Homo sapiens: one gene and its partners. The protein of the gene in region 3 purifies or fractionates together with the protein of the main gene of each other region. This does not show direct contact. Each region holds a gene or a part of one and is shown on either strand. Other genes may lie near its edges.

Evidence for each region.
Region 1: the proteins of TFR2 (region 3) and TAF5L purify together in Homo sapiens (affinity purification with mass spectrometry; one large-scale study listed by BioGRID and IntAct). This does not show direct contact.
Region 2: the proteins of TFR2 (region 3) and GLG1 purify together in Homo sapiens (affinity purification with mass spectrometry; one large-scale study listed by BioGRID and IntAct). This does not show direct contact.
Region 4: the proteins of TFR2 (region 3) and GALNT12 purify together in Homo sapiens (affinity purification with mass spectrometry; one large-scale study listed by BioGRID and IntAct). This does not show direct contact.

What each region holds. Positions count from the first base shown.
Region 1 is NC_000001.11:229,610,956-229,618,236, forward strand, and holds part of TAF5L (TAF5-like RNA polymerase II p300/CBP-associated factor-associated factor 65 kDa subunit 5L), read right to left. Parts: intron 3,531-7,281; 5' UTR 3,528-3,530; coding exon 3,386-3,527; intron 1-3,385. UniProt on the Homo sapiens protein: Functions as a component of the PCAF complex. The PCAF complex is capable of efficiently acetylating histones in a nucleosomal context. The PCAF complex could be considered as the human version of the yeast SAGA complex.
Region 2 is NC_000016.10:74,493,174-74,500,454, reverse strand, and holds part of GLG1 (Golgi apparatus protein 1 isoform 3 precursor), read left to right. Parts: intron 1-3,810; coding exon 3,811-4,014; intron 4,015-5,623; coding exon 5,624-5,695; intron 5,696-7,281. UniProt on the Homo sapiens protein: Binds fibroblast growth factor and E-selectin (cell-adhesion lectin on endothelial cells mediating the binding of neutrophils).
Region 3 is NC_000007.14:100,636,526-100,644,489, forward strand, and holds the start of TFR2 (transferrin receptor protein 2), read right to left. Parts: upstream 5,028-7,964; 5' UTR 4,985-5,027; coding exon 4,952-4,984; intron 4,704-4,951; coding exon 4,451-4,703; intron 4,348-4,450; coding exon 4,161-4,347; intron 1-4,160. Other genes in the region: ACTL6B (actin-like protein 6B), read right to left, coding at 6,721-6,801. UniProt on the Homo sapiens protein: Mediates cellular uptake of transferrin-bound iron in a non-iron dependent manner. May be involved in iron metabolism, hepatocyte function and erythrocyte differentiation.
Region 4 is NC_000009.12:98,829,716-98,836,996, reverse strand, and holds part of GALNT12 (polypeptide N-acetylgalactosaminyltransferase 12), read right to left. Parts: intron 5,258-7,281; exon of another isoform or gene 5,249-5,257; coding exon of another isoform or gene 5,226-5,248; coding exon 5,040-5,225; intron 1,749-5,039; coding exon 1,631-1,748; intron 26-1,630; coding exon 1-25. UniProt on the Homo sapiens protein: Catalyzes the initial reaction in O-linked oligosaccharide biosynthesis, the transfer of an N-acetyl-D-galactosamine residue to a serine or threonine residue on the protein receptor.

The DNA of each region.
Region 1 (7,281 bases), on a different chromosome or scaffold from region 3:
CTTTCCATCTGCCCTTCTTATGAGATATGTTTCTTCTAGGGTTCAATGGCCCCTGGCTGTCTTACGGTGAGGCACTCTGGGTGGTGAGGCTCATCCTCCAGGGTGACCAGGGTGAGCAATGTCCCAACATCACTGTCTTTTCGTCTTTCTTCTTGGGCAAGTTGGACTCACCAGGGAAGGATTGTTTACTTGCCTTCCTGGAGCATGTGTGCCTGGCTGCAGTATTCCGGGCATATGAATTGGTGCAGGGGAAACAAGGCTGGAGTCTCAATATTCAGTATGTAAACACACACTTAATCTCCAATCTGTGAGTTTATGCTTTCTAAAAACAAAAAACAAAAACCATTCTCCTCCTGTTTACAAGAGGAGTGGGGAACACCGGGGAAAGAAGGTGGCTAAAAACCAAGGGAAGCCACCTTTAACCGCGTCCTGAATGAAACATGAATGCATTTTGTCAATGGAATATGGATGGAGAAATGGTGATGAATGTGGCAGGACTGAGGGCGCCATAACAGGAAATACGTAGAAAGGGAAACACAGGTGAGAGGAAAGCCAACCTACTCCAGGAGAAGGAAGAGACAGTCAGAAGAGAGGACCTGCTGCAAGCCTGCATGCAAGGGAGGGACTCCTCCTCCTTCTTCTTGCCCCCCGCTTAGTTACTCTGTCACTAAGTCCTACAGATTCCTAAAATATATCCTCTCCTCTCCACTCCCATTACCACTTCCTCAACTGAGGCTGTCCTCACTTCTCACTGGACTGCGTCTTTTAACTAGTTTCCTCGATTCTAATCTGGGCTGCCTTATCAATACTGCCACCAGACTGAGTTTTCTAAAATTCACATTTGAAAACCTGGATACCCTCCTCCAATTTGTTCCCTGGTAAACATCTAATGGTTCCTTTGCAACTCAGCTCACTCTTTCAACTATTTAGTGACCCCCAACTATATGTCAGGAATCACAAGGCCTTTTGGGGATCCTTCCTTGGCTTGCCAGCCTAATTTGGATGATCTTTTCTGCTACCACTGAACCTCCCCCTCACAGAACTTACTACCTCATGCTCTTCTACAATCACTGACTTACCTGCCTCACTTCCCAATTAGAACACTTAGCTTCTCAGAGCTAGGGTCAAATCGTAGCTATCTCTAGAACTTTTCAGCACTTGGCCTATAGCAGATGTTCACTAAATGTCTGCTGAAAAAAGAATTCTTCAGATTACTCAATTAATGGAAAAATCTAGGACAAAATCTTCTGATAATCATATTTCATGTTTCTCACTTTTCCTGGTGGTTTTCCAGCAATAACACTTTCTCCTAATAAGCTATTCTATTGAAACTAAGACAACTTAGACGAGCAAAGTTCTGGAAGTCTGTTTAATATTGTTCATTCCTACTTTCTATCAACAACAGCAAGAATTACTGCTCTCTGGTTCCAAAGGATGCAGGGCAGCAGATTTTTTAAATGGCTAGGATGGCATGTTCAGAAGGAATTACTCTACAATGGGACAGAGGCCTTGTAAATGGACTCCCCTATTCAAACAATAAGGCACTTAGTATTCTATACCAAGGCCATCATCTGGCCCTGTTTTGGTCAAGGGTATCTCTGAGGAGTTTGAAGGCAAGGAATAATGGGTGGATCCAACCCTGAAATACGTGATGGCAGGCTGCTGACTGGGCTTCTGTTAGTGTTTCAGAGGAAGTCAGGAACCACTCCTTTGAGAGCATCCTCAGGTTGTTACTGTCCTAGCACTCTCTTCCTATGGCAATGAACCCTGGGTCCTTGACTTTGAAGGTATATGAAAAGAGGGAGCTGAGGTAACTGCGGCTACTAGGATGGAGGATGAAACCATTAAGAAATGGAGCACGTGGTGAAAGATATTTGGAAGATCACAGAAAGCCCAGGAACAAAGAAGAGAGAAGAATGTAGCCTGAGCATATAAGAAAGGGAACCAGGGCTGAGCTGCAGAAATCACTGCTAACTCCACCTCCACACACAGCCATTGAAGTAGTTTATAATCACCCTAAAGTATCCCAGCAATTTTTTTCCCCCAGAATCACTAGTAAATAAGTTCAGTAAAAGAAAGTCCTGTTACACAGTGGCTCACACCTGTAATCCCAGCACTTTGGGAGGCCAAGGTGGGAGGATCACTTGAGGCCAGGAGGTCATGACTAGCCTGGACAACATGGTAAGACCCCACCTCTAACAAGAATAACAAGCAAAAAAAAAAAAAAATTAGCCAGGTGGTTGTGCATGACTGTGGTCCAAGCTACTTGGTAGGCTGAGATGGAGGATCACTTGAGCCTGGGAAGTTGAGGCTGCAGTGAGCTGTGACTGCATCACTGCATTCCAGTCTGGGTGATGGAGAGAGACTCTGTCTCAAAAAAAAAAAAAAAAAAAGAAGAAAGAAGAAGAAGAAGAAGAAAGTCATAAAGTCATATTACATAAAAACATGAACTCACAAAATAGCTAACAATTACAGTCGGCCCTCTGTATCTGTGGGTTTCACATTCATGGATTCAAACAACTGCAAGTCAAAAATATTTGGGGAAAAAAACCACCAAAGTCCCAAGAAGCAAATTTTGAATTTACCAGGTGCTGAATACTATGATGAATCCATGTGAATGAGGTGATATGTAGGCTGTATTAGGAATTATAAGTAATCTAAAGACAATTTAAAGAATACAGGAGGATGTCTGTAGATGTAACCTGCTATGCCAAATATTATACCACATCTTATCAGGCAGGAACTTGAGTATCCGTGGATTTTGGTATTCATGGAGGGGTCCTGGAACCAATCCTTTATGGATACTGAGGGATGACTATACTTATTAATCCAGATGGAGTCAACTCAAGTTTTTCTAAAATAGAATCGGATTTCAAAACATTAAAAAACAAAAACAAATTAAAAAAACTTCAGGAATGTGTCTATAATAATAATAATATTTCCAACTACAGATCCTGAAGTACCAATTTATTCAACAAACCTGACTTCTACATGTGAGGCTCCATGCTGGAGGAGAGGGGACCTGTGCAAGAAGGGGACAGAGGGAGACCCTGTCCCTAAGGGTCTTGTAGGTTAATTGTTTACAGAAGGAAAAAGTTGCACGTACTTTCAGGTACAGATAAAGTAACTGAGAAGTCCTGAGGAAGGAAATGACTTTAGCCAGGGGAATCACAGAGGTTATCAGAAGTGACAATGTGAGCACCGCTCTAAATGACAGACAGGGTCTCTGAGGCCAACATCATTCACTTAACGTAGCTCACTGAGGTTTTTGGTCAGTCTGCTCTCTCTGGCACTGTCTTGAGAAGAGGAGAAGTAATTCCACATGGATATTGACGTGAGTTCTCCTGCTCCAGGCTCACCCCACCAGACGAGCCCCCACCATTACCTGTTAGATTGGCCGCCATCTCTTCAGCAGTCTGTGACAGCCGCAGTCCTTGCTTCAGGGGACCATCTGAGTCCACGTACTGCCGGCGTTTGAGGTAGCAGGACACTGCCATCTGAATCTGCTCGGTACGCACTCGTTTCATGACCTTCAAGGGAGGCAACGACAGGATACAGAGACATCAGGGGCCTGGGAGAGCAACCTATCTAACTGCACCATCGCAGATGGGTAGGACACATGGGAGAGAAAGACCAGCCATGTGGCTAAGTGGCCTAGTTAAGACGCAAATCTAAGTTCCCTAATACCAACGTGGTATACTCTTCCATTTTGTCTGTTTCTCCAATGACAATACAGCCAACTTCAATTACAGAAAATAGGAAAAGCATCGATAATAAAGTCCTTAGATCACCCCCAAACTCTGTTTAATACCAAGATTCCAATCAGCCCCATGAAACTTTTCATTAGAGAAGCTAACAAAGAGCAAACAGGGCCAGTCTGAAATTTAGGGCCTTTGATTTCTCCTGCCTACTCTGTGAGAGAGGCGTTAATTAGCAGTGAACTAGCCAAAAAAGCAGGCAGGAGGCAGTGCCAAATCAAAGACCACAGAAACTGGATAAATAGATGTTAACAAAGCATGAAGTTAACAATGGTGAAGGGGATTGTGATATTTTTGCTTAATAGCCAGGAAAAGACTGCCAGCTCTAAGTTAGGGATTTGCAAAATGTGTTTTCATTTTATTTTATTTCATTTTATTTATTTATTTATTTTGAGACAGAGTCTCGCTCTGTCGCCCAGGCTGGAGTGCATTGGTGCGATCTCAGCTCACTGCAAGCTCTGCCTCCTGGGTTCACGCCATTCTCCTGTCTCAGCCTCCCAAGTAGCTGGGACTACAGGCACCCACCACCACGCCCAGCTAATTTTTTGTATTTTTAGTAGAGACGGGGTTTCACCGTGTTAGCCAGGATGGTCTCAATCTCCTGACATTGTGATCTGCCCGGCTTGGCCTCTCAAAGTGCTGGGATTACAGGCGTGAGCCACCGCGCCTGGCCGTGTTTTCATTTTAATTGTATAATATTATTTACCTTTTTTGCTCTTTATTTAAACCACAGGTATAGAAAGGCAGCACAACACTAAGAGGGTATGTATATGTGTTAGCATATGTCTCATAAATTCCTGTAAGAAAGGAAAGTGGTAGGAAGTGACCTGAACAGAAGTAAATTATTTTTGAATAATTCAAGCTAATTTGTAGGTTCACAAAAATAAAAAGAAAAGGGAAAAAGAAAAAAAAAAAAGAGGCACTGTTTCCTTTGACTATTGAGTTTATTATCAACAATGACAGGAACCCCTAGTATTGCCATGGCCTCAAACACTACTTTGCCAGAAATAAATACTGCAGTCCAGATGACCAATGACAGCTGGATGAATTTTGGGGTTCACTTCTGTCATGTAAAACATACTTTCCCCTCCAGGACCAAAATATTGTGTCCATTTTGGAATGCATTTCATGTACGCATACACACACAATCATCCCAACCAAAGTAACATTCTCTAAATCAAGGTTTCCCAGTTGTTTTGTGTGGGAGATCTGTTTTTGATCATTTATTTGGATGTGTTTTAAGTTCTCAGTTTCAGTTACATGCATTAGTATTTTCCTTTGAGAGTTCTACCATTCTTTCATTTTGTTTTATTTTTTTTGAGACAGTGTCTTGCTCTGTCACCCAGACTGGAGTGCAATGGCATGATCTCAGCTCACTGCAGCCTCCACCTCCTGGGTTCAAGTGATTCCCTGCCTTAGACTCCCGAGTAGCTGGGATTACAGGCCCACGCTACCACACTTGGCTAATTATTAAATTTTTAGTAGAGATGGGGTTTCACCATGTTGGCCAGGCTGGTCTCGAACTCCTGACCTCAAGTGACTTGCCTGCCTTGGCCTCTCAAAGTGCTGGGATTACAGGTGCGAACCACCGTGCCTGCTCTTCCATTCTTTTTTAAGATGTAAAATTCCACCTTTTCCGGAAGTCTATTTATTTATTTATATTTTTTTTTTTAGTAGAGAAGGGGTTTTGCTATGTTGTCCAGGGTGGTCTCAAACTCCTGGGCTTAAGCAATTCTCCTTCCTTAGTCTCCCAAATTGTTGGGATTACAGGCATGAGCTACCATGCCTGGTCTTATTTTTCTTTAAACATAAAAAAATTATTTGTATCTAATTTTCGTCCATCTGCAGTTTCTTTTAGTGTATGTGTGGTGAATAACCAAACAAATGTTTTGCCCAGTGACTGTAGCTAACACACTGTCCCAATACCATTTGCAAGTAATTATTTCCTTCTAAACTGATTTGTGGGAGCCCTTTAAAAATATACTCTGAAGACCTACTTTTCAATTCCCTACAAGTCATACAACAGAGCAAACTGTGAAGGCTAGAGACATACTCACAAGTATATATACATGTAAATATAAAATGTTAGGACATTATATATATATTAAACTATATGCCCAGAAAGATTACATTATCTGTGCATTTTATTTCTAGGTTGCCAAAGAGTTCAAAATATTTGTTACAAAGAAGGGGTACTAGGTGTGTGATTGTTAAAAAGAAGGAACACTATGGTTGTGAATCAGTGACATAATGAAACACAATAATAAATTTCCAAATACTGAACTCTCTTCTCACTATGAAATTTACCTTGCTTGGGTATGGTGTATTATTCTCTCACTGTATTGATGACTTAGGTTACTTTTTAATTAAGCTGTTTTTTTAAATTGCTAATACAGGGATTCTGATACTCTGAGAGTGGGGTCCCTGCTCCCATTCTCTGTGGCCACTGATCAGCACTGCTCTATCAGTGATCCTCCAACCTGGCTATACATAAGAATCCCATGAGTGTGTGGATATGTATATAAATAATTTCAGCCCTGCAGATTCTGGTTGTGTTATATTTAGAGTAAAAAAGTTAAATGCACACGGAGGCTGTGACAGTACTGTCCTTTCCCGTGTGGCCCAAAGTCAAGACGAGTCAATCCAACCAGTGCCTCTTCCTATCACTTGCTACAGCTGCTTTTCATCTAACTTCAAGATCTCCTACTCTGCGGGCTTTCCCAAAGCAGCCCAATTCCCTACTCTAGCTGAGACTGAAATCTTTCCGGCTTCCACACTGCCGATCTTTTGCTGACTTGGGAATGCATGCAAATATTGATGCACATCCGTGAGCATTCCAGGCAGATGGGCCTCGATCTCTTAGATCACCTCTGACAGGAAAAAACTCTGCATGTGAAAGACATGTGAATGACTGATCTGGAGAACAGGCTCTGCAATGACACAGTGTCCTCAAGGTGCGACAATATACCTATGTGTCTGAGGAGGAAGGGAAAAGATGTGAAGTTAGGAAAGAGTAAACAGAACGGAGTAAGAATGAATGATAGTCAACACTGACCATATTTAAGATTGCTAGAAACTAGTCTGTAATACTGATTCTAACAAATATGCTTAAATTAGCTGCCCCAAATAGCAATTTCTCTGAGTCCAAACTACCATTTATGATAAGGGCGCTTCCCTGAGGGTGGGTGGTGAATCAACTGTATGGCCATGGATCTTAAGGGCAGGAATTCTGGCAATGACTCTCTTGCATAACCACGCTAAACTCAAATACTAGAGACACGACCCAATCAACTCAGCTGGGTTTTATTCCAATGTACATATATTTCAAGTGACATGGATAATTAATGAACCTGAGATAAATCGGTCCCCTCCACCCAGACTGATTTCCAGAGTACTAATATCCAAAAAGGGACAAGTGAAGAAAAAAAACTCTCCTTAAACTAGACCTAAGTCTCTGGAGAGACTCATACATGAGACGAACAGTGCAGTTTCGTTACCTGCCTAGCTTTTCCTATAATTATAA
Region 2 (7,281 bases), on a different chromosome or scaffold from region 3:
TTGTTAAAGGACACGGAATATGGGGAAGAAAAATACTGCCTATCAAACTTCTAAAAACGGATCAAGGCAATGGCAGTAGATTTTAAGCAGATGTTTTTCTACCATAATAAAGTTAACAAAAAATTATTGTAAGTTCATTTATAGGATAATTTATTACTCATATGCCAAGCCTGTGTATTAATAACTTTTTAAACCTAAATGAGCTTATTTTCTCATAATGTGCAGGTGTGTAGTTCACCTCACTTTAATTAATGTTTGGTAACTAACCATGCAGTCTTCGCTGTCAAATATTTATATGCCTTTCAGTTATAAACTCCAATGCACTAAAAGCTCAGAGACTCCGAGGAACTCCTGAAATACCCTTATTTGAAAAAAATATTTATCTGAAAGTTACAATGAATGGAAACATCTAGTAGAGAAGTATTGTTTTTTTTTATTTTGGTGTTGTTGTTGAGACGGAGTCTCACTCTGTCGCCCAGGCTGGAGTGCAGTGGCACAATCTCGGCTCACTGCAAGTTCCGCCTCCCAGGTTCATGCCATTCTCCTGCCTCAGCCTCCTGAGTGGCTGGGACTACAGGTGCCTGCCACCATGCCCGGCTAATTTTTTGTATTTTTAGTAGAGACGGGGTTTCACAGTGTTAGCCAGGATGGTCTCTATCTCCTGACCTTGTGATCCACCTGCCTCGGCCTCCCAAAGCGCTGGGATTACAGGCGTGAGCCACCGTGCCCAGCCAGAAGTGTTGTTATGACCTAATGCCAGTGTAGTTACATTTAGTCACACGTTGCTTATCGATGAGGATACAATGAGAATACCAGGACACGTTCTGAGAAATGTGTTGTTAGGCAAGTTGATCACTGTGTGAGTATCATAGAGTATAGCCTACTACACACCTAGGCTATGTAGTATAGCCTATTGCTCCTAGGCTACAAACCTGTACAGCATGTGGCTATGCTGAAATACTGGAGACATTTATAACACAAGTATAGTATTTGTGTATATAAGTACATATAAACATAGGAAAGGTACAGTAAAAAACACAGTGTTCCATAGCTGAGGGTGGTGGTGTGTGCTTCTAGTCCCAGCTGCTTGGGAGGCTGAGTCAGGAGAATCACTTGAGCCCAGGAGCTTGGGACTGCAGTGAGCTGTGATCCCTCCACTGCACTCCAGCCTGGGCAACAGAGCAAGACCCTGTCTCTTAAATAAATAAAAATGAAAGTTAAACAACAACAACAAACAAGTTTTAGGAGTTTTATAGACTCCACCCACTCACCCAGATTAACCCCATAAATAAATAATGGACTGTTAGCTAGACACTTCATGTTCTACAACTCAAATGAGTTAGTTAACTCCTCTGAGCCTCTGTTCATTCATGTCCGCAGTAGATATCAGAGCTGTGTCCTTTCTTCATATGTGTGTTAGGAGATAACACGAAAGCTTTCATGGAAACACTTGGAAATTAAGGTGCTATAGACAAATCCTTTAATTAAAATAGAAAAAAATACATTCTTTGGTTGATTTGAAATTTTGTCTGAAGTAGATGTTACGCTACTTGGTTTTAGGAATCTTTTTTTTTTTTTTTTTTTTTGCCTGAGACGGAGTTCACTCTTGTTGTCTATGCTGGAGTGCAGTGGCACTAACTCAGCTCACTGCAACCTCCGCCTCCCAGATTCAAGCAATTCTCTCGCCTCAGCTTCCTGAGTAGCTGGGGTTATAGGTACGTGTCACCACACCCACCTAATTTTTGAATTTTTAGTAGAGACAGGGTTTCACCATGTTGGCCAGGCTGGTCTCGAACTCCTGACCTCAGATGATCCACCCGCCTCGGCCTCCCAAAGTGCTGGGATTACAGGCATGAGCCACCACGCCTGGCCAGAATCTTTTTATTATATGCAGATTATTTCATAGATAGGTATTTTATTATAACAAGATTTTAATTGCGTGTGTATAAATGATAGCACTATATATAAAATATATATATAAAATATAATATATATATATATATATACTTTTTTTTTTTTTTGAGACAGAGCCTTGCACTGCACCTCCCAGTCTGGAGTGCAGTGGTGCAATCTCGGCTCCCTGCAACCTCTACCTCCTGGGTTCAAGCGATTCTCCTTCCTCAGCTTCCCGAATAGCTGGGATTACAGGTGCACACCACCACATCCAGCTGATATTTTGTATTTTTAGTAGAGACAGGGTTTCACTGTGTTGGCCAGACTGGTCTTGAACTCTTGACCTCGTGATCCGCCCACCTTGGCCTCCCAAAGTGCTAGGATTACAGGCATGAGCCATCGTGCCGGGCTAATAGCACTATATTTTAAGATGCTTTGGTTTGCTATATTAGTGGTTATACCTTAAATTGTTGAAACATATCTTGTAAGTATAGATTAGGACTCTTGAATAGAAAATATTTAGGGGAACTATCTCATATTTTGCATGAATGAATGTTTGTGGTTGCTATGGGGATGATGAAGTGTACAATTAAAGATAATTGGATGGTTTTTAAGAAAACTCTCAGAAGCGTTTTGTGTAAACAGTGGTAATCTTGTTAAATCCCATTAAGATAAATCCAGAACATCAACGTGAGTATTAAACAACAGATTCTACATATTGGGATGTTTGTGGACACCACAGAGTAGGGAAAGGAGCAAGAAAGTCTCTAACTTCTTAGTGGATTATGTGGTTTGTTGGTTTTTAACTTGACTGAAAGCACTGTTGGCCGGGCGCAGTGGCTCACGCCAGTAATCCCAGCACTTTGGGAGGCCGAGGCGGGCGGATCACGAGGTCAGGAGATCGAGACCATCCTGGCTAACACGGTGAAACCCCGTCTCTATTAAAAACACAAAAAATTAGCCGGGCGTGGTGGCGGGCGCCTGTGGTCCCAGCTACTCAGGAGACTGAGGCAGGAGAATAGAGTGAACCCGGGAGTGGGAGCGTGCAGTGAGCCGAGATAGCGCCACTGCAGTCCAGCCTGGGCGAAAGAGCGAGACTCCGTCTCAAAAAAAAAAAAAAAAAAAAAGCAAGCACTGTTATTTGGGAAATGCCTGGTTTTTAGAGACAAATGAACAGAGATTTCAGCAGTGTAATTTCAGTCTTGACATGAACTATGACCAGAACTTTGAGCCGATGTGGTTTTTTGTGTGTGTGTGTGTGTGTGTGTTTTTTTTACAGAGTTTCTGTCTTGTCGCCCAGGCTGGAGTGCAGTGGCACGATCTCGGCTCACTGCAACCTCCGCCTACTGGGTTCAAGTGATTCTCCTGCCTCAGCCTCCTGAGTAGCTGGGATTACAGGCGCACACCACCATGCCTGGCTAATTTTTTGTATTTTTAGTATTTTTAGTACAGATGGGCCTTCACCATGTTGGCCAGGCTGGTCTCGAACTCCTGACCTCAGGTGATCCACCTGCCTCGGCCTTCCAAAGTGCTGAAATTACAGACATGAGCCACCATGCCTGGCCCTGTTGTGTTTCTTATGAATTTTTGACATTTTAAATTTTTAAAAATTCAGGTTCTTATTTCTAGTGCTAACTAAACTATAATACTTAAACTTTCCAGGATCTCTGTTTCCATTTGTAGCATGCAAGTATTATATTCTAACTGAAGATTATTGAGAGCATTTTCTTTAACTTCCACAATGTGGTTGGTTCTTACTTGATTTCTTGGTAGAACGTTAATAAGTCAACTCTATGATGGGGTTTTATTACTTTGTGTGTGTGTGTGTGTGTGTGTGTGTGTGTGTGTAGCCAAATGTTGTTTATTTGAAACCCATGTGATAAAAGTTTTAAAATATTAATATCCTCGCTATTTTAGGATGCACATTCACAAGGTGAGGTGGTATCATGCTTGGAGAAAGGCCTGGTGAAAGAAGCAGAAGAAAGAGAACCCAAGATTCAAGTTTCTGAACTCTGCAAGAAAGCCATTCTCCGGGTGGCTGAGCTGTCATCGGATGACTTTCACTTAGACCGGCATTTATATTTTGCTTGCCGAGATGATCGGGAGCGTTTTTGTGAAAATGTGAGTCAGCTCAGAAACTGTTCTTTTCTTCCTTTTATTTTTACACATATATAATTTTGTTTTAATTAATTTAATTGTGTTGTTTTTTGAGAGATTGAGTCTTGCTATGTTGCCCAGGCTGGTCACGAACTTCTGACCTGAAGCAGTGCTCCAGCTCAGCCTCCCCAATTTTTGAGACAGGATCTTGCTGTGGTGCCCAGGCTGGAGTGCAGTGGTGTGATCATGGCTCACTGCAGCCTCCAACTTCTGGGTTCAAGCGATTCTTCTGCCTCAGCCTCCCAAGTAGCTAAAACCATAGGCAAGCACCATCTTGCCTGGCCAATTTTTTTAAAAATTTTTTGTAGAGATGGGGCATTGCTGTATTGCCCGGACTGGTCTTGAACCCCTGGCCTGAGGTGATCTCCTCCCTCTGTCTCTGAAAGTACTAGGATTATAGGCACGAGCCACTGTGACTTAAATATTTTTTAATACTCTATTCTAACGTAAAATAAGCCATCAAGAAACCTCACATGTAGAAAAGCCACAGAAATGGAAGAAGAAATTGGTCCCAGTATAGCAGAAAGTGGTAACTGGATGCTCAACCTTGATGACTGAACATTTGGTTAACAGCTGGCTTCTAATGATCTCCACTTAGTATTTTTTCTGCTTTATCTCACTTCTCAATTTCAGTTCTTGGAAGTCTGTTTTATCTATAGGAATTTTATTTTACCCAGGATCTTATTTACATCTATTCAATGGCTAAAACTTTGACGCATTATATATTTATGTGTTTTTGGCTAAGGTGAAGAAAACAGCAGGTGGCTAATCTTTAAAACCAAATCCTTGATTACCACCTGCTGACTCTACAGAACAGCCTTCTAAGTCTTTAAATAGAATGGTCTCTCCATCCTTACAACAAAGTACTGAAAGTAACTTGTGTACACTTCCACTCTGCCTGCTGGTTTGCATTAACAGCTTTAACCATCAGAGCCACTGATGTAAGAGTTTCGTTAACTCTAGCATACACTTGTAAGAAAGAAGACTCAGAGGCTGGGTGCGGCGGCTCACGCCTGTAATCCCAGCACTTTGGGAGGCCGAGGCAGGCAGATCACTTGAGGTCAGGAGTTCGAGACCAGCCTGACCAATATGGTGAAACCCCATCTCTACTAAAAATAAAAAAATTAGTTGGGCAGGGTGGCGGGGGCCTGTAATCCCAGCTACTTGGGGCTCTGAGGCAGGAGAATTGCTTGAACCCAGGAGGCAGAGGTTGCACCGAGCTAAGATTGTGCCACTGCACTCCAGCCTGGGCAACAGAGCAAGACTGACTCTATCTCAAAAAAAAAAAAAAAAAAAAAGACTCAGACTCTAACACTTCTCTTGGTTCCCTAATTAACAAAATACATCTGAGAACAAATGACAAACTCCAAATATCATGGGAATATTTTTTTCGTCTTTACTGCAGTCACTGTTTTTGTTAAAAGCCTATTAAATTTTATAAATGGAAGCGCTGTTTGTCCAAAGGTATGTACGATTATAATCGTTTAATAGAAAGCTCTATATGAGATTGTGGATAATGTTCAGCATAACTATTTAGCTAAAGTAATAATAATGTGTATGTTCCATCTTATAGACACAAGCTGGTGAGGGCAGAGTGTATAAGTGCCTCTTTAACCATAAATTTGAAGAATCCATGAGTGAAAAGGTAAGTATTATTTTGAAACTAATGAATGTTTTATTTGTTTTTTAAAAGCTTTCTCAGCCAGACACGGTGGCTCACGCCTGTAATCCCAGCACTTTGGGAGGCTGAGGCAGGTGGATCACGAGGTCAGGAGTTCAAGACCAGCCTGGCCAAGATGGTGAAACGCCGTCTCTACTAAAAATACAAAAATTAGTCGGCCGTGGTGGTGGGCGCCTGTAATCCCAGCTACTCGGGAGGCTGAAGCAGGAAAATCACTTGAACCCAGGAGGTGGAGGTTGCAGTGAGCTGAGATCGCACCACTGCACTCCAGCCTGGGTGACAGAGTGAGACTCTGTCTCAAAAAAAAAAAAAAAAAAAAAGCTTTCTCAATTTCTCTGAAACAATATTTCTTATAATCTTATACCGAAACGTAAATGACTGATAAAGCTCACCGCTTTCAGAGGTGAGGTACTTGGGTTTTAAGCATATTTGGCTGAAACCAAGAAAATGAAACCCTGATTGTGATATCTAGATAGTGAGAAGCCAAGTAGGGTTCTCACTGTGGTGGTTTTTTTAGGTGTTTTTGTTTTGTTTTGTTTTTGTTTTTTTTTGAGTGGAGTCTTTCTCTGTCACCCAGGCTGGGGTGCAGTGGCATGATTCGGCTCACTGTAGCCTCTGCCTGCCGGGTTCAAGCAAGTCTCCTGCCTCAGCCTCCCTAGTAGCTATGACTACAGGCACCTGACAACACGCCCAGCTAATTTTTGTATTTTTAGTAGAGACGGGGTTTCACCATGTTGGCCAAGCTGCTCTCAAACTCCTGACCTCAGGTGATCCACCCGCCTCTCACTGTGGTTTTATATAAAATCCTCAGTGTGATTTTATATAAAATTCTCAGATATTACTTTGTTTGGGGAGTAAAATCAGAGAATTTTATATAAAACCACACTAAGGCCAGCCCTGCCTCCTCAAGAAGTTTAGGTTAACCAAATCAATGTGCTTTCTAGGCAATTAGCTATTTAATTTTTCAGCAGCTATATCATTAAGCATCCTCTTTTAGTTCTTTGTCCCTGAATGAATGCAAGAATAGTTGATGGCTTTTGAAATAATTAATTTTGCTATCTTGTCATTTACTTTCCTGTGTAGCTGAAGAAATGTTTCTCATTTCCTTTTTCTTGTATCATTTGAACAATCTTATTCAAATCTTATTATTCAGATGATATAGAATAATTGAATAATTGTATTTTAAAGCATTGAACAGAATATCCCAAATGTTATGTTAGTTGCCAGTTTGATGCTAGTGAAATTTATGTTCGGGGTATTGTTAAAGTGGAAAAGAATGCTGTGTGTCAAGTTAACATATTGGGATCTGTGAGATATTTACATGTTTTGGATAGCTGCTATTGCAGCAACAACTAGCAAGTGACTACAGAATTTCTAGGTTCCCCACCCACTTACCCCTGTCTCATGCCACACTAGTTTAGCTCAATTGTGAACATTTTAACCAAACTTAAAGATAGATATGTTGGTAATAACTGCAGTTGTTGACATGTACTTGGCTGAGTCGCTGTGCTCATCTTAGTGGTACACGTCAACAGTAAAGTTACATGAGT
Region 3 (7,964 bases):
CATTGAGGATCTACTGAACATCTAGTAAGTGCCAGGCATTGTGGTAGGTGCTGGAGACTCTGAGATAGACAGGATATATTGTATCAGGAAGTTTTCAAGGATCCAGAATCCTACTCTCTGAGTAGACCCTGTCAGGTTCCAACTCCCCCAGTTATCCTCGCTGTACCTGCTCTTCAACCCCATTGAACATGACAAATGTCCTATAGCTCCACATGTATCATCTCCCCCCACTTTCTCTTCCCTCTCCATCCCACCGAGAGCCATGTTTCACTCTTGTTGCCCAGGCTGGAATGCAATGGCGCGATCTCGGCTCACTGCAACATCCTTGCTCTCTCCCCAAAACTGCTACTTTTGCCTCAGTGCCACACCCCGCTTCTAGACCTGTCAAACTATCTACCTGCTCAGCCTGTACCCAGATGACCAAATACTGCTCAAAAAAATAAAAGTAGCCCTGAACAGGCTGGGCACCATGGCTTACGCCTGTAATCCAAGAAATTTGGGAGGCCAAGGTAGGAGGATTGCTTGAGCCCAGGAGTTCGAAACCAGCCTGGCCAACATGATGAAACCCTGTCCCTAAAAAAAATACATAAATTGCCGGGCGCAGTGGCTCACACCTGTAATCCCAGCACTTTGGGAGGCCGAGGTGGGTGGATCTCCTGAGGTCAGGAGTTCGAGACCAGACTGACCAACATGGAGAAACCCCATCTCCACTAAAAATACAAAATTAGCTGGGTGTCGTGGCGCATGACTGTAATCCCAGCTACTCGGGGAGCTGAGGCAGGAGAATCGCTTGAACCCGGGAGGCGGAGTTTGCAGTGAGCCAAGATCGTGCCATTGCTCTCCAGCCTGGGCAACAAGAGTGAAACTCTGTCTCACAAAAAAAAAGAAAAAAACAAAAAACAAACAAAAAAATCATAAATTAGCTGGGCATGGTGGCTCACGCCTGTAGTCCCAGCTACTTGGGAAGCTGAGGCACAAAAATCACCTGAAGCCGGGAGGCGGAGGTTACAGTGAGCTAAGATCATGCCACTGTACTCCAGCTTGGGCAACAGAGTGAGAATTGGTTGCAAATATATAAAAATAAATAAATCCTGTCCCTAAATAATAATAATAATTTTGAAAAAAGAAAAATGAAAAATTAGCTGGGCGTGGTGGCCCCTCCCTGTAGACCCAGCTACTCAGGAGGCTGAGATGGGAGAATCACCTGAGCTTGGGAAATCGAGGCTGCAGTGAGCCCAGATTGCACCACTGCATTCTAGCCTAGGTGACAGAGCAAGGCCCTGTCTCAAAAAAAAATTAATGTAATTTAATTTTTTTTTTTTTGAGATGGAGTTTCACTCTTGTTGCCCAGGCTGGAGTGCAATGGCACGACGTTGACTCACCGCAACCTCCGCCTCCTGGGTTTAAGCGATTCTCCTGCTTCAGCCTCCCGAGTAGCTGGGATTACAGGCATGCGCCACTACGCCCGGCTAATTTTGTATTTGTTTTGTTTTTTTGAGACAGAGTCTTGCTCTGTCGCCCAGGCTGGAGTGCAGTGGCGCGATCTCGGTTCACTGCAAGCTCCGCCTCCCGGGTTCATGCCATTCTCCTGCCTCAGCCTCCCAAGTAGCTGGGACTATAGGTGCCCGCCACCACGCCCAGCTAATTTTTTGTGTTTTTAGTAGAAACGGGGTTTCACCATGTTAGCCAGGATAGTCTCGATCTCCTGACCTCATGATCTGCCCACCTCGGCCTCCCAAAGTGCTGGGATTACAGGTGTGAGCCACCATGCCTGACCTGTAATTTAATTTAAAAGCCCTGAGCAGGCTGGGTGCGGTACCTCATTCCTATAATCCCAGCATTTTGGGAGGCTGAGGTGGGAGGATTGTTTGAGGCCAGTAGTTTGAGACCATCCTGGGCAACATAGGGAGACCTCGTTTCTACTAAAAAAAATTAAAAATTAGGCTGGGCATGGTGGCTCATGCCTGTAATCCCTGCACTTTGGGAGGCCGTGGTGGGTGGATCATCTGAGGTCAGGAGTTTGAGACCAGTCTGCCCAACATGGTGAAACCCCGTCTCTACTAAAAATACAAAAAATTGGTTGGGTGTGGTGGCAGGCACCTGTGATCCCAGCTACTCGGGAGGCTAAGGCAGGAGAATTGCTTGAACCTGGGAGGTGGAGGTTGCCATGAGCCGAGATCGCACCACTGCACTCCAGCCTGGGCAACAGTGAAACTCTGTCTCAAAAAAAGTAAAAAAAAAAAAAATAGCCGGGCATAGTGGCACACATCTGTAGTCCTAGCTACTTGAAAGGCTAAGGTGGGAGGATCACTTGGGTCCAGGAGTTGGAGGCTGCAGTGAGCTATCATCTCGGCACTGTCTGGGTGACAGTGAGGCCCTATCTCAAAAAAATAAAGCCCTGAACATTGTTGATTCCACAGACTCAAGGTCTTTCAGCAGGTGAATCCAGCAACATATCAAAAGAGTAATCATACACCTTGATCAAGGTTAGCGTTGAGCTCAGGAAGATAAGGAAATCTATTAACACAAATTACTATATAAACATTAAAGAAGAGGCTGGGTGCTGTGGCTCATGCCTGTAATCCCAGCACTTTGGGAAGCCGAAGCGCTTTGGCAGATCGCTTGAGCTTACGAGTTGGAGACCAACCTGGGCAACATGGCAAAACCCTGTCTCTACTAAAAAATACAAAAATTAATCAAGCGTGATGGCACACACCTGTAATCCCAGCTACTCAGGAGGCTGAGGCATGAGAATCGCGTGAACCTGGGAGGCGGAGGCTGCAGTGAGCCAAGATTGCACCACTGCACTCCAGCCTGGGTGATAAGAGGGAGACTCCGTCTCAAAAAATCAATCAATCAATAAAAGTCTCAGTGAGCTAGGAGTGAAAGGAAACTTCCTTAATTCAATTTTAAAAAGCTGTCTGGAGCACAGCAAAGTTCATTGTCAATGGCAAAGTATTATAAAAGCATTGCTATTAAAGTCAGGAAATAGGCAAGGATACCTACTGCCACGGTTACCTTAAATTCATGTCCTCTCAAATGCAATGAGAAATGAAAAAAAAAAAAACGTAGAAGGTATAAGCATTGGAAAAGAGAATCTCCATCTCCTACTATCTGTAGCTTAGCTGATTACCTACTTAGAAAACCCAGGCGAATCCACTGAAAAATTACTCCCGTCCCAAAAGAGGGCTATGGGTGGACCTAGCTTTTGGATCTGCACCCACAAATGCATTTGCTTACTTGTTTTTCTTTTTTTCTTTTCTTTTTTTTTTTTTTTGAGATGGAGTCTCGCTCTGTTGCCCAGGCTGAAGTGCAGTGGCGTGATCTCGGCTCAATGCATGCTCCACCTCCTGGGTTCAAGCCATTCTCCTGCCTCAGCCTCCCGAATAGCTGGGACTAGAGGCGCCCGCCACCATGCCCGGCTAATATTTTGTGTTTTTAGTACAGACGGGGTTTCACCGTGTTAGCCAAGATGGTCTCGATATCCTGACCTAGTGATCTGCCCGCCTCCGCCTCCCAAAGTGCTGGGATTACAGGCCTGAGCCACCGCACCCTGCCGTTATTTTGTTTTTGAAACAGGGTCTCGCTCTGTCTCCCAGGCTGGAGTGCAGTGGCATAATCTCGGCTCACTGCAACCTCCGCCTCCCCGGCTCAGGCAATCCTCCCCCGTCAAGCTCCCAAGTAACTGGGACTACAGGCACTCGCCATCATCCCCAGCTAATTTTTGTGTTTTCTTTGGTAGAGACGGGGTTTCATCGTATTGCCCAGGCTTGCTTGCTTGGTTTTCTGATTCCCTAGAATGCGGCTTCTCAGAACCCCTCAGCGCTCCCTGCTCCAAATCTAGGCGCCTGGGTGAGGCATTCAAGGCTTTTCTGGGTCTGTCCAGTCTGATACTGGATGCTGCACCCCTCTGATCTCAGACAGTCAGCTCCCTCACCTCCCAAATATGCCACCCTCAGAGCCTCAGTCCCCTGGAACCTCAGCTCCGAATGCCTGCCATCCTTCCCAGGACCGCTGAACAGGGGGGCCAGGAAGGCAGATGGGAGGACTCAGGAGGGGGACCCAGACACCAGAGGCCTGGGCCAGGAGGCAGGGAGGCCCAGTCTGAGCGGATGAGGGGAGGGACACTCGAGAACAGGATGGGGCAGGGCCATCCCTACCTGATGGTGTCCTCCAGGCGCCCCTCCCCCAGGAACTGCAGGAACATGGCCTGGAGGTCGCTCCAGTAGAGTCTGCCCTGGTGGAAATCCAGGTCAGGCTCATAGTTGACATCCTCACTGACCACCAACACAGAGTCTCCGCACGCCTGGCAGGACCCTCGGAAGGCGACGTAGCCCAGTAGGAAGGCTGGCGGGTGGCAAGATGGGGATTCTCTTTATGCCCACCTCTGGACCCCAGAAATCTCCCCCAGCCCAAGCCCTTCACTTCTGGGGAGGGGGACGGCTCTCACCCCCAGTGAAGATCAGCAGGGCCGTCAGGACCAGGTAGGGGGCAGCCCTCCGTCCTGCTGCCGCCCAGGGAATGAGGTTTGGCTGCCTGGGTCTAGAGCCCAGGGGCTCAGGGCCCCTCAGCTCCATGGGGCAGAAGTGGGCCAATGTCTCCGCCCCCTCCTCCCCGTCTTCCTCTTCCTCCTCCAGGTGCCCTTTCCGGGGGCCTTCCACACGCTGGTAGACGGTCTGAGAGGATCTTGGGGACAGTTGTTGCTGTGCAGGCGAGGTGGGCATGAGATTGGGGCAAGAGGCCTGGGGGGTGGGGAGGCATCTGGCAATAATGAGGTCAGTGACTTGGGGGTGTCAAATGAGCATGGTGGTGGGGGCGTGGGGGAGGGGCAGGGGTGGGAAGAAGCGAGGTCAGGACACGGTCCAGGAGGGGCCAGCCTCAGGGGCTTGGGAGGGGGCTGAGGGACTTAGAGAGAAGGCCTAAGGGGTCTTCCCAATCCCACTAGTCTTACCGCTCTCTGGAATAGACCCCAAAGCCGCTCCATGCTTGTGTCCCCTCCTGAAGCCTGCAGGCTGTCCCCCAGCGATAAACCGATAAACCGTTTGTGGGAGCCCTAGGAGGGCCCCTTATCAGTCCTGGCAGGCAGCCTGAACCAAGGCTGCTCCTCACCACCCCCAAGGGTGGGGGCACAGTCCTGGCCTCAGTCCAGCCTTCCAGACGTGGCCCCCGGGTCCAGGCCAGAGCACAAGGGGCTGTGCTCTCCCCTGCCAATCTCTCCACAGCCCCACGCCTGCCTCCTCCCTGCAAAACAATCAATTTTTTGACCTTGGGGCGGACTTTGGCCTCCTAGTTCCCATCAGGGGTGGGGGAAGGGGGCCGATAGTGGGGGAGGGCAGAGACATGGGTGCCCCCTCCCCTCTCCTGCTTTTACCCCTCCCTGGATCCTGGGGACCCCTTCCTAAGCCCCGCCATGCCCAGGTGGAAGATTCACCCCTAAGACATCTGCCCCTTCCTCATCTGGCCTTCAGAGTCCCCCAGTGCCCCGGTCCTGTGACATATCAGCTGTCCTCCCTGTCCTGACACTTGCCCCAGTGGCATTCTAAGCTGGAGGCACCACAGTGGTGTGACTTGGGGGTCTGGTCTGGTGGTGTGCATGTGTGTCTCTTTTGAAAGGTCGTTCTCAGACTCCTGCTGGCTGCTGGAGAAGGAGGGGCACAGGTGGGAGCACATGGTCAGATGAGACCAGCGAGAGCTCCCAGATAGGGGTCCTGGGGTCAGGGATATGTGGGTCAGTGGGGAGGAGTGATCAGAGTCCCCGCCAAGGTGTGGGCAGAGCTGGGTGACCCTGGACAAGTCATGGTCCTCCCTGGGCACCGGCCCGTTTGGTCACCGAAGGACTTGGATCACATGGGTTTCTACCTCTTTGGGTTCTGAGGCTGATGAAAGGCCAGTTAGCCTCACCCCAGAAACATGTCACAGGCATAAACTGCTAAACAGGCAGGGGGCGCAGGTCCCCAAACCCTTCCGAGGGCCCCAAGACAAGTAGCTCTGAAGAGGAGGGCTCAGGGTCCCACCAAGTTTCCCTTTCGGGTTTCCCCTGGGAAACATCAGCTCCTACTCAGGTCCAGAGAAGTTCCGAGCTGCTGGGATGCACCAGCGCCCTAGTCCCCGCCCCATGTCTGTCACCACCAAGAGCCCCAGGAAGGAAGGCATAGCGCATCTCACCTGAGCGCAGGTCCTGGGGTGCTCAGGCGTGCTGCTCCCCTGAGACCTAAGGCCTACGCTGAGGCCCCGCCCACCAGGCCCCACCTCCTGTTCCGCCCATCCAGGCTTCACCTCCTGCTCCACCCACCTCCTGCCACACTCACCCCAGGCCGTGCCCCTCCACTGCACCCTGCAGCCCCTCCCACCTCCCACCACAACTGTTAGCCCCCAGCAACTCCCCCAACCCCCGGTCCTCGTCATGTGGCCCTCCCTGGGTCACAACCCCTAGGAAACCTGAGGAATCCATGGCCCCTGGGGCTGTGTCCCAGCACCCACTGTGGGATCGGCATGGGTGTAGAAGTGAGACTCCCTCCCCTCACCTCCCTCCAGACCCCTGTGCCCACTCCCCACCCCACGGAGGCCAAACTTTTTTTTCTTAAAACATTTTTACTTCTTTCAACCCAGAAACATCACCATTAATGAGGACAAGAGGGAAAGGAGGAGGGGGGCAATGTGGCATGGGGGTTAAGGGACTTCCATCTGAGCTTGGGAGCAGGTGTGTGGGGAGGAGTGCCATCAGGGGCACTTTCGCTCCACGCACTGCTTCCCGCCCTCCTCATATTCCTGCTTGGAGATCCACATCTGCTGGAAAGTGCCCTGGGTGGAGGGGGTAATATCAGGGTCAGGGTGGCCTTGGAGGGAGGTGTGGACAGGCAGGTGCAGCCCCTGGGAATCCTCCAACAGGCCCCAACCACCCCTTGGGTTCACATCCCTCTGAAGCCCCTCCCCACCTCATCCTCCCCTCCTCGGTCTGTCCCCTTTCATATTCAGAGGGAGAGTATCCTCTTCATATCATTCAATCAATAATTCATTCATTCAACAAGTATTATTGAACAGCAGTCTCTGCCCTGAGCTAGGCCCTGTTCCTGAGCTGGGGGGATGGCACGCACAGCCCCAGGCCAGGCAACCTGCACCTGGCACTCAACACCCCCTACACACACACAGTCCTTCCCCACCAGGTGTCCTCTTCTCACTCCATCAGGGCTTTGGAACACCGCCAGTCTCCCTCTTTCCCAAGGAAGATATTCCCTCCACCTCACCATTCCAACACTGTGGCACCCCATCTGCAGCCTTCGGCATTACAACTTGCCCCTTGAGGGTTCCTGCAATGAGCATCTCAGAGTGTCCCTTCTCTCTATTTTTTTAAAATTTTAATTTTAATTATTTTTATTTTTATTTTATTTTTTTGAGATGGAGTCTTGCTCTGTCGCCCAGGCTGGAATGCAGTGGTGCGATCTTGGCTCACTGCAGCCTCCGCCTCCCAGGTTCCAGCGATTCTCCTGCTTCAGCCTGCTGGGTAGCTGGGATTACAGGCGCGTGCCAACACGCCCGGCTAATTTTTGTATTTTTAGTAGAGACAGGGTTTCGCCATGTTGGCCAAGCTGGTCTCAAACTCCTGACCTCAGATGATCCGCCCGCCTCGGCCTCCCAAAGTGCTGGGATTACAAGCGTGAGCCACCGCGCCCAGCCTAATTTTTATTTTTTGTAGAGATGGTGTCTCACTATGTTGCCCAGCCTGGTCTCAAACTCCTGGGCTCAAGTAATCGTTCCACCTCAGCCTCCCATAATGTTGGGATTACAGGCGTGAGCTACCACGGCTGGGCTTCTTTGATCTTTCTCAGCCTACACACATGTGCTGTCCAATGCAGTGGCCACTAGCTTCCTGTAGCTCACCAGCCCTGGTCCAAATTGAGACGTGCTCTAAGTGGAAAATACACACCCAATTTTTTTGGGTTTTTTTTGAGACAGGATCTTGCTCT
Region 4 (7,281 bases), on a different chromosome or scaffold from region 3:
CCAGAACCCCACCACACTGCCAGATCTGCACACAGAGAAAAGGAGAGGCCAGGTGGTGAGCAGGGGATGAGCTGCGGGTCCATAGTATCTGCAGCAAAGAGGCCAGGCACACGCAAGGCATGATGGACACTGCCAAGATGCTCAGCCTCCATCGGGCAGGAGGCCACCTACCCGGCACACTCATGACACAGAATGTGGGTAAAGAGCAAGAAAGCAGCCCCCAAAACATATAAGCTGTGGGAACCAAGACCCCAAAGTCCATGCACTAAAGCTCATGCACTTGACTCACAGGAGCATCCACAGAGACCTCGCTGGCAACCCACTTACTCATTACAGAAAACACAGGCTTGATTACCTGATCTCCTAGCCACAGAAGATAGGAAAGCAGCAAGGAAGAAAAGAGGTTTGGAAGGGGGAAAGGAAGAGCGTCTAGAAACAGGTAGAGCAGCCTGACACCTAAGGAAGAGGCAGAGAGACCATTAAAAGCACACCCAAAGACTCAACAGGCGAAGGCATCTGAGCCCATCTCACACTGGGACTGACAGCCTTGAATATCTCATTTTCCCAAAGATGGGACAACCAAGCACAGCATCTGGTACTTATTACAGAGGGCGTGAGTCCTCGGTAGAAGGCCAAATTCTTGTTTATTCAGTTTTTATGAGGGCAGAACACCATATAAAATATTATTAAAAATCTTAATTTTCCACTGAAAAGCACCAACATTTACACAAAGTTTTGATGCTTAAAATGTAAGACTTCATTAACTGGAAAATCTACTGAAATGCTAGGAGTTTTCCAATACGGTTTTCACGGGCCATGTAGAGTAGCATCAGTAGGAAGGCTTGTTACAAAAAGCAGAATCTTGGTCCCACCCTAAAGCTATCAAATCTAGCTAGAATTCTAGATTGTGCTTGTGAATCTGTCTTTCTAACAAGTTTACCCAGCAATTCTTACATGTGTTGGCTGGGTGCAGTGGCTCACACCTATAATCCCAGCACTTTGGGAGGCCAAGGCGGGTGGATCACCTGAGGTCAGGAGTTTGAGATCAGCCTGGATGACATGGTGAAACCTCGTCTATACTAAAAATACAAAAATTAGCCGGGCATGATGGCACATGCCCATAATCCCAGCTACTCGGGAGGCTGAGGCAGAAGAATCACTTCAACACAGGAGGCGGAGGTTGCAGTGAGCTGAGATCGTGCCACTGCGCTCCAGCCTGGGCGACAGAGCGAGACTCCGTCTCAAAAAAAAAAAAAAGAAATTCTTACATCTGTCAAAGTTTGAAAGGCACTGTGCTAAATAAAGAGGCCACTTCATAAGGAATTAATCAAGTAAAGGCTCCAGAAGACAGGATCAGGAGGAACCTAACCCTGAGCAAGTCACCTCTCTCCTGGTTTCATTTCCTCCTCTCCATAGAGTGAGAGAGAACTATGTGACTCGCAAGGCCCTTGCTGGCCCCAAATCTAGAAAAAGTACACTTTTTAAAAAGCTAAAACAAGAAAGCAAGCATGTTTATAGGATATGCGTGTCATCATCTTTCAGGGTCCACCAGGCTCTTACAGCAAATCCCATCGTTCCCAAAGAGAGAATCAGTTAAGAACATGTCCAAAGAGAAGACTGAAATACTTACCCTAAAGGAAAATTCGAGGTTTTCTCCTCCCCAAACTTCCATTCCTGTATCATAAGACCCCAGATATTCAAAATATTTCTTACTCACAGCAAACAGCCCACCAGCCATTGTTGGAGACCTAAAAAAGTATGATATCCTTATTTCACTGTAGACAGCAGAAAACCATCACAGTTATCCAACTACCTTCCCACCACGAGCCCTTTCATCTGTTCATCTGTCATCTCTAAGCATATCCCGCCTTCACCTCTGTGCCCCACACTAGGCTGGGCCTGGAGGCATAGATGTACCCTACGGTCCCTGCCTTGAGGTGGCTCCCAGGCTTCTCAGCAGGTAAGTACTATGTGTGTGCTAAATATGTTAACTAAGGTCAGCCAGGGCCCTGGGAGAACACTGAGGAGGGCAGGGGCAAAAGGGCAGGACTAGGTTCCCTGGAGGAAGCAAGGTCTGCAGGACAAAGGACAGTTAGCCAAGAAGAAGAAGGGAAATGGAATGGTTCTCCAGCATGAGCAAAGGCTTAAGGGTGGGAGAAATCCAGGGACATTTAGAAGCATAGAGAGCAAGGAGAAGAGAGAAGCAAGAGACCACGTTCCGAGAAGAAGGCAGGCTCCAGGCCATGGTCATCTGAGGAGGTGTGATCTCACAAGGCAGGCACTCACAGATGCCACTCAGAGGCCAGTATGCAGAAGGCCCTAAAGGCAACTCTGGCATCTGAAAGTGCCCCGAGGGCCAGGTCCTCTTGAGTGGTTTCCTCCACTAGGACCCAGCTAGCCAGCCTCAGGCTGCTTTTTCAGCCAGCCTTGTTTCCCGCCACCCACCACCAGGTTTATCTGGAAGCCAGCACTAACCAGAAACGGCCCACGGCTTCCAGCCTACACGGCAGAACACTGTAAGGTCAGCACGTCCCAGAGTTGCACAGGCAAAAGGATGAATTCAGAAATAGGGAAAGGGCTGGGCACGGTGGCTCATACCTGTAATCCCAGCACTTTGGGAGGCTGAGGCGGGCAGATCTCCTGAGGTCAGGAGTTCAAGACCAGCCTGGTTAATATGGCGAAAACCTGTCTCTACTAAAAAAATGCAAAAATTAGCTGGGTGTGGTGGCCCACAGCTATAATCCCAGCTACTCAGGAGGCTGAGGCAGGAGAATCACTTGAATCCAGGAGGCAGAGGTTGCAGAGAGCTGAGATCATGCCACTGCACTCCAGCCTGGGTGACAAAGCGAGACCCCAACTTGAAAAAAAAAATAGGGAAAGAGAACATTGAGAGCGCAACCACTGAAAATGTTAACATCCTGCAGCATCGGGGCCTGCCCTGGACTCCAAGCATGGGGCCAACTGAGAAGACAACAGCAACATCCCCAGTGGAAGGGAAGGTTCTAGACTACAAAGCACCTTCACGTGTGTTTATCCTAAAAATCTAGGAAATAAGCAGGGTGGATATGCTGGTACCTATTATACAGATGAGATAACTGAGGCACAGGGATATTATGGGATGGGGAGGATAGGTGCCCTGAGCATGTGGGGTAACGGGGCAATTAGAATTCATGGACCCCCATGAATTCATGACAGGCTGCCTAAGTAGCCTAGATTAGAGCCTCCTGCTCTGTGTCTCAGTTTCCAAACCTATTCAGTGAGGGATTGAGCAGGATGTTCTCACTAAGGGCTCCTACAGAAGCCTGGGTGCCATTCTTAATTCCTTCCTTCCCCAATTCCCACTCAATTTCTTCCAATTCTTCCATCTTAACATCTCTGGAATCCACAGTGCCCACCATCTCCTGAACCATTGTTTCTGACCTGGAAGACTGCAGAGCCTCCTAATGGTATCCCTGCCTACAACGGTCCCCCCAGGGCCCTCACCACATGGCACGCAGCACATGCTCAGGTCACTTCCTGCTCCGATCCCTTCAGTGGCTTCTACCTGCTCAGGGTCAAGTCCAAACCCCTTCCCTTGGCCCCGCCCATCTCTCCAGCCTTATCTCTGGACACTCTCCTTGCTTGCTCCACTCCTGCCAGCAGCGGGTCATCTTAAGGTCAGGACTCTGGTGAAAGAATTCAGAAGCCCAACTGCCAAATGTGGACGCAAAACTCAGAGCCTACTTCCGGTTCAACACACCAGCGGTGAGGCTGAAGTCCTGACCTCCTCCTGCCCAACTCCCACATCTGTCTCCCACTTGCTTCTGAACTTGGAAGGGGAGGAAGAAGCCAGGCTATCACTTCAAAACCTCCAGAATGAGAGCTGCTGAGCCTCCCTTGGGCCCATTCTACTCAGAGCTTGACTCACCCACTGGCCAGAGCAGACTCCTCCACCTGCCATGGATCCACCCACACCCCAGGTCAAAGGGGCCTAAAGATGTTTCCTCAAGAATGAGCATATGACCAGCAATCCCACTCCTAGGTGTATACCCAAAAGAATGGAAAACAGGGACTCAAGCAGATAAAAGTACACCGATGTTCATAGCAGCATTATTTAACAATAACCAAAGGACAACCCAAGTGTCCACCAACAGAAGAATGGATAAACAAAATGTAGCATATATGTACAAAGGAATATTACTCAGCCATCACAAGGAATGATGTTCTCTAGGAAACTTGAAAACATGATGATAAGTCAAAGAAGCCAAGTACAAAAGGACAAATATTGTATGATTCCACTCACATGGGGCGCCTGAAAGAACAGAGGTTCCCAGGGGCTGGGAAGGGGAGAATGGGAAGTTATTGCTTAGTGGGGATATTTTCTGTGTGGGATGATGAAAAATTCCTGGAAATAGGTAAAGATCATGTTTGCACAATACCGTGAATGTGCTCGATGCCACTAAAATTGCATGCTTTGTTTTATTTATTTATTTTTTTATAGAGACAGGGTGTCACTCTATCGCCCGGCTGCAGTACAATTGCGTGATCATAGCTCACTAAAGCCTTGAACTCCTTGACTCAAGCGATCCTCCTATCTCAGCCTTCCAGCTAGCTAGGCCTACAGATACACACTAGCATGCTCAGCTAATTTTTATTTTTTTGTAGAGATAGGTTCTTGCTATGTTGCCCAGGCTGGTCTCAAACTCCTGGACTCAAGCAATCCTCCCACCTTGGCTTCCCAAAGTACTGGGATTATAGGCATGAGCCACCATGCTCAGCCTAAAATTGCATACTTCAAAATGGTTAAAATGGTAAATTCTCTATGATGTATATTTTACCACAATTTAAAAATTAAATAAATAAAATATACCGATATAAAATTGACATGTGTAGCAGACACGTTTAATAAAAATAAACAAATACTCTGGGCAAAAAAGTGGGAAGAGGGGAGGTAGTTAAGCTGACAGCTAACCATTCCTCCCGAGGGCCTCCGCTCACAGGTCAGCCAGATTCAATGAGGCATGCTTAAAAAACAAGTCACCCAGAAGTCAGCTCCTGACCTGATGACATCGACGGGGGATTGCATCCGTATCCTCTCCCTCTCAGGAACTGTGTGCCACGTGAACACCAGCCTCCAGTCGAAACCGCCGATCTGGGGCTCCCCGGAGTTCCCCAGGTATTCGAAGGTGTTCCAGTCGATCACATCAATCACCGGGCACACCACTGCCGACTCCTCTTCATGGATCCTGAAAGCACCCAAGACATCCATCCGTCTCTCCTATGCAGACGGGCAGCAGGAAGACAATTGGGAAATTCAAGGGTGAATTCTTGTCTTCCTTCCAATAAGAGGGAGGAACATCTGAGAAAGACCTGCTTCTCTTATTCCAGGTGTCTGCAGCCGTGTCAGAGCCCTGGCAGGTGACCACCATGGGGGAGATCTGGGGGCCACGGAGGGCTTTAAAACAAAAAGTCCCATGACTTTAATATGCTCTGATTCTATCCATGGACATTCTGACCAAACGCTCTATGATTTCAATTTCTCAGAAGTGCAAGAGGTTTAATCACAATGAAACACCTTAACATCAAGAAATACTTATCTCCTAAGAACAAAGGTGCACCCAGACCAAAGGGTCAGCTTTGGAATTAGAATATAAATTCTAATCCTGCTATTTATTTGTTGTGTGACATTAGCCAAGTCACCTAACTTCAGAGCCTATTGCCTCAGTGGTAACACTGGAATTATAATATCCATTCAGAGGGTTAATGTGAGGACTTCCTGGGAAAATGTTTTTAAGATAGCTGGCAGAGAACCTGAAACTATTGCTATTTTTTTATTTTAATGTTTGTTATTGTGAAATATTACATATAGTGAAAAATGCTATAATTTCCTTTTGCAGGTATCAGCCTGTGTGTTGGCTTCAACGGTTCTCTCCACATTATTACAAATCTGGCCATCCCTCAGCATGCTTCCAGGCCGTGTTTCTTTGCATTTGCCACTACACCAGGAAAGATGGACTGAGACTAGACCACGTGTGAACACTAGATTTCCTTGAGTACATTTTGGGGGACGTTGTCTGGAATTTGAGACCTAAAAATCCTAAGAGTCCTGCCACACAGGACAGTGCAACAGAGATCAACCAGACTTGAGCTTTCGGTGTCCTTAGAATGACACCAGAAAGTCAGAGGGGATATTAGAAATACCACTCTGGGGTAAGAATTACAACTATCGGGAAATTGCACTGTTCAGAACAGGTTGCGTGAGACAGGGTCTTAGATCTGTGAGTTCCCCAAATTGAGGAAGTTGCATACTAGGTATCCACCAACATCCGCTTATTTAAAGCAATTGAGGGCATTATTTAAAAGGTTGAAAGGGCCAACATCAGACCTGCTGGGCAAGTTCTAGCTGGCCCCTGGCAAAGGCCAGCTCCCCCAGGAACTGATGGCTTGTGATCAAGCTGGCTGGAACCACAGAAAGCCTAATTTTTACAAGGAGGGGAAAACTAGGGGAATGCTGTACCAGCATTGGAGTATAGGACTCCCAGTCGTGGCTGGAGAATGTGCAGGACCCACAGGGATGCTATTGGCATCTGGGCCAGAACCATTCTCCACTGAACAGGGCTGATCTGCAGGATACTTGGCCTCCCTGATACACAAAATGCCAGGAGCCCTACCTGGTTGACATGACAACCAAGAATACCCTCCCACATTTCCAAAAGCCCCTGGATGGAAAGGGTTACCACTCCTGTCTGGGGCCACCTTAGGGAGAGTCCACAGTCTGATGTGTCCCAATGCTCGTGCACACCAAAGTCCCCTGGGGAGCTTTTGAAACATGCAGAAGCCGAGGCCCCAGCCCCAAGAGTTAGATCCAAATGGGACCAGGCATTGGTGTGTTTAAAAAGCTCCCCAGGTTGAACCCTCACACACCGTTGGTGGGAATGTAAATTAGTACAACCTCTATGGAGAACAGTTTGAAGGTTCCTCAAAAAACTAAAAATAGAGCTACCATATGATCCTGCAATTCTACTCCTACGTACATATCCAAAAGAAAGGAAGTCAGTGTATCGAAAATATATCTGCACTCTCATGTTTGTTGCAGCACTATTCACAATAACCAAGATTGGGAAGCAACCGAAGTGTCCATCAACAGATGAATGGATAAAGGATATGTGGTACATATACTCACAATAGAGTACTATTCATCCGTAAAAAAGAATGAGATGCTGTCATTTGCAACAACATGGATGGAACTGGAGGTCATTACGTTAGGTGAAATAAGCAAGGCACAAAAAGACAAAGTTTGCA